2 separate regions of the Homo sapiens genome follow, and region 2 is reported to be linked to region 1. The links are microRNA targets in miRTarBase. Many come from high-throughput screens and were not tested one by one. Region 1 holds a microRNA gene; the other region holds the end of a gene's coding sequence.
The links. Region 1 holds the annotated microRNA hsa-miR-2276-3p (UCUGCAAGUGUCAGAGGCGAGG, at 1,280-1,301, shown strand). A microRNA usually pairs through its seed, bases 2 to 8, with sites in the 3' UTR of a target mRNA and lowers its output. Matches are read on the target gene's strand: a 7mer-m8 pairs with bases 2 to 8, a 7mer-A1 pairs with bases 2 to 7 and ends in A, and an 8mer does both.

Region 1 (3,402 bases):
ACGTGGTGTTCTCGCAAAAGGCCGTTTCCAGCCGGAAGCCTGCAGGGAGGTCGCCTTGTAACTTCACCCGCGCTCCCAGCTCGCGGGGCCTGGCCTACAGGGGCGGCCGTGGGGGTGGCAGAGTCTGGGGAGCCTGGCGCGGCGGAGCCCTGTAACGCTCTGCTCCATCGGGTGGCGTGGCTGGTGCCTCCGGGGACCCGGAGCGATGCGGTTGGAGAGCTTAGTTTAGAAAGCAAGTTTCTCTTGGTACCAGCGGAGTCTCGTCCCAGGGGAAAGATTTTGGGACCCGGTGCCCATCGTCTGTGGACTGCAGGGAATGCATTGGCGGAGTTGGTTTGGTCCCATTCTGTGCAGGAGGTGGGGGAATTGGTACTCCAGCCCCAGGCAGGTAGAAGCCCGCGCTGCTGCCAGCGTCAGGGGGAGCTCGGGTGACTTGGGCTGGGCCACCCATCTGACTGCAAGGTTACAGAGCTTGAGCAAATTTCCCCTCCCTCCAAGTGCAGGAAAACCAAACCAAAGCAAGCAAACAAAACCCTGTGGGTCATTTGCTTCCCAGCATTGCATAGGGATGTGGATAAATAGAATAATACTGTGAATTTATTCAGCTCTTGTTCCCATGGCTTCCCATAGCCTTATATTATGCACCTCCCCCTGCCAGCATTTTCTCTGTCCCCACCTTCGGTTTTTGCTGCCTCGTGTTTTCTTCTCTGTGAACCTTTCCTGGTCACCCAGCGATTTGCTCTCCTTTATTCCCCTTGCTAACAGGCGGAGAAATCTCACTCCTTTTCTTTTTCCACCTTTCCCAACAAATTCTCCTTTTTTCCTAATGTCCCCCTCCCCCGTCTTGCAAACTTCCTCACTGCATTATTCTCGGGGTGCCTGTCATGCACCCTCCCTGTTCTCTGCCCTCCTCCCGCACTTTAGAGTTTCATGTGGCTTTGTCTTATTATCCCATATCCTAATTCTCATCTACCTCCCTTGGCCCCCACGTTTGCCATCTGCCTCCACCCAGTTCTCCCATCTCCTTCCTTATTTGTGCTCCCGTGCATATGCAGGTTTCTTCCTTGTTTCCCCATGTTTCTCCCACAGGTGCTTTCTTCCCTTTGCCCTACTTCTCCCTGGCAGGCGCTCTGCCCAGCCACAGCCTGCCCCGCCTGGAGGGCACACCTTGCCTCAGTGCCTTCTGCTGCGGTTTTCCATGCTCCATCAGCATCCCTGGGTTCCTTGTGTTCTTCCAGTCCGCCCTCTGTCACCTTGCAGACGGCTTTCTCTCCGAATGTCTGCAAGTGTCAGAGGCGAGGAGTGGCAGCTGCATCTCTGCAGGAGGACTCTGGATTTCAGGACCCTCCCTTCTGCCACTGCTTCTGACTGATTGTTTTCTTATTGAAGTCGTATCCTCTACATAGTTCTAGAATTAATGTCAATATTGATGTTAGGTAGCATCTACCAAACTCTGGGTGTGTGCCAAGCACTGTTCTGAGGGCTTAACGTGCATCAGTACTCATTTAAAATCCTCCACACATCCCTATAATGTAGGATCTACTACTGTCCCCATTTGACAGATGAGAAAAGGAAGGCTCAGAGGAGGTAACCGGCATGGCTTCTTGCCACTGCCTAGCAGTGGAGGCCCTCTTCTCACCAGACAGTGGAGCTTCCCTGCTGGGTGACCTCTTGAACTCAGGCATGCCTGGAGTTTAGCTTTGGAAAGGAGGTTGTTATATGACATGTTTTATTTAGTCTGCAATGTACACCAGTGGAGGACATGAATTCTATACCTGTAGGACAGTGCATGGAGAAAAACCTAATGCCGGCTGTCCCTCAGAAAGCCTGGGGCCAGTGCCTGGGCTGTCACCTCATCCATGCTATCAGTCTACTTTCCCTCTTAGCCACAGGAAGCCCTGAAGAAAGTGGCATAAAAATGACCTGGCTGGGCACAGTGGCTCATGCCTGTAATCCCAGCACTTTGGGAGGCCGAGGTAGGAGGATTGCTTGAGCCCAGGAGTTCAAGACCAGCTTAGGCAGCATAGCAAGACCCCATCTCTAAAAAATAAAAATAAGAAATCAGCTGGTTGTGATGGCGCACTCACCTGTAGTCCAAGGTGCTCAGGAGGCTGAGGTGAGAGGATCTCTTGAGCCTGGGAGGTTGAGACTGCAGTGAGCTATGATTTTGCCACTACACTGCAGCCTGGGTGACAGAACGAGAGACTCTGTCTCTAAAAAAATTAAGTTAAATTAAAAAAGAAGACTACTGCCAGCTGTCTCCTCCCGTGCATTGAGAGTTCCGTTTCACTTTAGCTGGACAGATCTTTATGGTCTCTGTTAGCTGTGTGACTGTATGAGTCTTATTTATATCCATTTCATTATGTAATCTTAAAGCCTTGTCCAAACATTTCTTTTTTAGTCTTTATCTTCCTAAGAGTTGGAGGCAAGTAGTATTTCTACTTTACAGATACTGAAGCAGAGCATGCACCTTGATAGCTGAAAGGGACTTTATATTCTACAGATGAGGAAACCGTGGTCCAGGGAAATAAAATGGCATATTCAAGGGAAAGCAGCAGGACAAAGTTGGCTCTAAGGCTTCTCTGGTTCAGGGCTCAATGCCTGGCCCTATAGCTTGGTAGGTTGACCTCTCTGTTTGCTGCTGGAAGCAACAAAGTTTCTTTCCCCTTCCTTTCCCTTGAGCTAAGAGGCATTGGAAGGTTTCACTTAGAAGGGGAACTCATCAGTGCTTTCCTTTCTTTTTTGTCTGAAAACTAAACATTTAAGAAATGTTTGCCTATGAGACATGTAATAGCATAAATGGGATCATAACATCACAGTGGTATAAATTCAAATGTTTTAGAAAGAACTATCATTGTTATTTCTAAAACACCAGGAATGAACACCAAATGTACATGGTTTTCTTGAGGGAAACTATATAATACATGGCAATTTGAAAATCAGTACCTGGAATGTTTAATTGTATTTTACATTTGTGGAGAGAAATGCATTGGTACAAAGTGCTTACCTGATTTTCCTCATCTTTGCATCACAAATGAAAGAGCAGTAAAGGGGGAGCATAGAGTAGGTTGCTGTTTTTCTGTTGGCCTCTGCTGTACCCACATCCTTCTCTGGACTCCCACTGAGCCCCCTTGCTCCTGCCTCTGCTCCCTCCATGTTTAATGCCTCTTTTGGCTCCCCAGGGAACCTGCAGGGTATTGTTGAATTGTGATGCTCACCTCCTCCATACCAGCCTGTCTTGACAGAATGAAACCCTGATGCCCTGAGGCAGGCATCCTATGTGATGGCTTCATCACTCCCTCCTAGGATGAGATGGGTGATCAGGTACCATCCTGGGGAGAAGGGAGGAAGCATTTGCGTGAGGTATCCTCTGTGTTCTGTGGTTTAGGTGAGGATGGTTAT
Region 2 (3,402 bases), not on the chromosome of region 1:
TACCATGGACTACGGAAAGAAGTGGTGGACACAAGCCCAAGCCCACGACCTGGTCATCAAAAGCCTTGACAAATTGAAGGAGGTGAGGGAGTTTTTGGGTGAGAACATATCCAACTTTCTTTCCTTAGCTGGCAATACTTACCAACTCACACGAGGCATTGGGAAGGACATCCGTGCCCTCAGACGAGCCAGAGCCAATCTTCAGTCAGTACCGCATGCCTCAGCCTCACGCCCCCGGGTCACTGAGCCAATCTCAGCTGAAAGCGGTGAACAGGTGGAGAGGGTTAATGAACCCAGCATCCTGGAAATGAGCAGAGGAGTCAAGCTCACGGATGTGGCCCCTGTAAGCTTCTTTCTTGTGCTGGATGTAGTCTACCTCGTGTACGAATCAAAGCACTTACATGAGGGGGCAAAGTCAGAGACAGCTGAGGAGCTGAAGAAGGTGGCTCAGGAGCTGGAGGAGAAGCTAAACATTCTCAACAATAATTATAAGATTCTGCAGGCGGACCAAGAACTGTGACCACAGGGCAGGGCAGCCACCAGGAGAGATATGCCTGGCAGGGGCCAGGACAAAATGCAAACTTTTTTTTTTTTCTGAGACAGAGTCTTGCTCTGTCGCCAAGTTGGAGTGCAATGGTGCGATCTCAGCTCACTGCAAGCTCTGCCTCCCGTGTTCAAGCGATTCTCCTGCCTTGGCCTCCCAAGTAGCTGGGACTACAGGCGCCTACCACCATGCCCAGCTAATTTTTGTATTTTTAATAGAGATGGGGTTTCACCATGTTGGCCAGGATGGTCTCGATCTCCTGACCTCTTGATCTGCCCACCTTGGCCTCCCAAAGTGCTGGGATTACAGGCGTGAGCCATCGCTTTTGACCCAAATGCAAACATTTTATTAGGGGGATAAAGAGGGTGAGGTAAAGTTTATGGAACTGAGTGTTAGGGACTTTGGCATTTCCATAGCTGAGCACAGCAGGGGAGGGGTTAATGCAGATGGCAGTGCAGCAAGGAGAAGGCAGGAACATTGGAGCCTGCAATAAGGGAAAAATGGGAACTGGAGAGTGTGGGGAATGGGAAGAAGCAGTTTACTTTAGACTAAAGAATATATTGGGGGGCCGGGTGTAGTGGCTCATGCCTGTAATCCGAGCACTTTGGGAGGCCAAGGCGGGCGGATCACGAGGTCAGGAGATCGAGACCATCCTGGCTAACACAGTGAAACCCCGTCTCTACTAAAAATACAAAAAATTAGCCGGGCATGGTGGCGGGCGCCTGTAGTTCCAGCTAACTGGGCGGCTGAGGCAGGAGAATGGCGTGAACCTGGGAGGTGGAGCTTGCAGTGAGCCGAGATATCGCCACTGCACTCCAGCCTGGGTGACAGAGCGAGACTCCATCTCAAAAAAAAAAAAAAAAAGAATATATTGACGGAAGAATAGAGAGGAGGCTTGAAGGAACCAGCAATGAGAAGGCCAGGAAAAGAAAGAGCTGAAAATGGAGAAAGCCCAAGAGTTAGAACAGTTGGATACAGGAGAAGAAACAGCGGCTCCACTACAGACCCAGCCCCAGGTTCAATGTCCTCCGAAGAATGAAGTCTTTCCCTGGTGATGGTCCCCTGCCCTGTCTTTCCAGCATCCACTCTCCCTTGTCCTCCTGGGGGCATATCTCAGTCAGGCAGCGGCTTCCTGATGATGGTCATTGGGGTGGTTGTCATGTGATGGGTCCCCTCCAGGTTACTAAAGGGTGCATGTCCCCTGCTTGAACACTGAAGGGCAGGTGGTGGGCCATGGCCATGGTCCCCAGCTGAGGAGCAGGTGTCCCTGAGAACCCAAACTTCCCAGAGAGTATGTGAGAACCAACCAATGAAAACAGTCCCATCGCTCTTACCCGGTAAGTAAACAGTCAGAAAATTAGCATGAAAGCAGTTTAGCATTGGGAGGAAGCTCAGATCTCTAGAGCTGTCTTGTCGCCGCCCAGGATTGACCTGTGTGTAAGTCCCAATAAACTCACCTACTCATCAAGCTGGACTTGTTCGAGTCATTCTTTGGTCTCTCAGCTCTTTCCAAGCTTTGGGGGCCATCAGTCTCAAGTTTTTCTCGTAATGGTGGTGATGGTGGTTGTGATGGCAGCAGAGTGGTGGGGGCCTTGGCAAGTGGTCGGTGCTCTTCCAGACCAGGGGACACCGATGGACCGATGAAGTTCCAGGGGAACTTGAAGTGCTGTGTTGGAAAGAGGTTAATTTGGGAAGAAAGGAAAAATGAAAGGAGATGCCAGGAACAGGTCAAGGAACCTTGAGGTGTGTCCAGGAGTTCAACCCCGCTTGTGGTCACGAGACCTCGCCTCTCTGAGCCTCAGTTTCCTCATCAGCTGTAGAAGGGTACCTGGACAAGGTGATGTCTCAGGTCCACCCAGCTCTCCCCATCTTGTGTCCTGGAGACTTGGGTCCAATCAGCACTGACTGATGGCTGTGCCTTTGTGGTGCCGATGGAGGCTCCCCTGGGCTCTGGGTGCCTGACTTCCCTTCCTCATGATCCTTCTTCCAGGGTCTCGGGAAACGAGGCTTCCATGGCCCCTCCTGCTTGCTCACTGGACTCTCACTTTCCCAGCTGGTCATTTCCCTGAGACCTCAAAACCCCACCAACCCCACTGGGGCACCCACAGAAAGCTTGTACATGTCTGGCTCTGGCTGAGCACAGGTGTGGTTTCCATCTGCGAGTCAGAGCCCGGGATTGACATGGGACGCTCGAGGCTGACTAGTGTCAGAGGGGCCTGTGTGCAGATTGGGAGAAGATTATCGAGTAATAGAGGGGCAAAGAGGGACATCCAGACAGCAAACACCCCCATCCAGTCTGTCCTCACGTTTTGCCCAGACTCCTGCAAGAACTTCCAGAATGGTCTTCCATGTGCAACTGCCCGTCCCTGCCCATGTCCTGGATCATTCTCCACACTGCGCCAGGTTGGGCTTTAACAAGATCATGTTTTGGGTTTTTGGGGGTTTTTTGTTTGTTTGTTTGGTCTCACTCTGTTGTGAGGCTGGCGTCCCGTGGCATGAGCATGGCTCACTGCATCTTGGACCTCCCGGCCTCAAACTACCCTTCCACCTTGACCCCCTGAGTAGCTGGGACCATCCGTGTGTGCCACATTGCCCAGGCTGGTCTCAAACTCCTGAGTTCAGGTGATCTGTTCGCCTTGGCATTCCAATGGGCTGCAATTACAGACACGAGCCACCGTGCCCACCTAAGAACATAGATTTGATCGAGCACCCACTTCTGACCATTCAATGGCTTCCCATTACTCTTAGCACAAAGATGTAGGCCATGATGCTGCCTAAAGTAGCCTGTTGCGGCCTGGGGTCCTGTGAAGGAAGAGCCAGAGGCAACGTTCTGGTGCAGAGGGTTTCTAGGAAGTGAT

Region 2: the mRNA of APOL1 is a reported target of hsa-miR-2276-3p. Seed matches in the 3' UTR shown: 7mer-m8 at 1,328-1,334.

Annotation. Positions count from the first base shown.
Region 1 is chr13:24,161,190-24,164,591 of GRCh38, forward strand. It overlaps MIR2276 (microRNA 2276), which reads left to right and starts at 1,227; the gene lies at 1,227-1,315. All of the region lies in intron 1 of SPATA13 (spermatogenesis associated 13), which reads left to right.
Region 2 is chr22:36,265,514-36,268,915 of GRCh38, forward strand. APOL1 (apolipoprotein L1) reads left to right here. Exons shown (of 6, transcript NM_003661.4): 6 at 1-2,012. The coding sequence ends at 520. Among named protein-coding and RNA genes, the nearest start is that of APOL1, 14 kb to the left of the region's middle.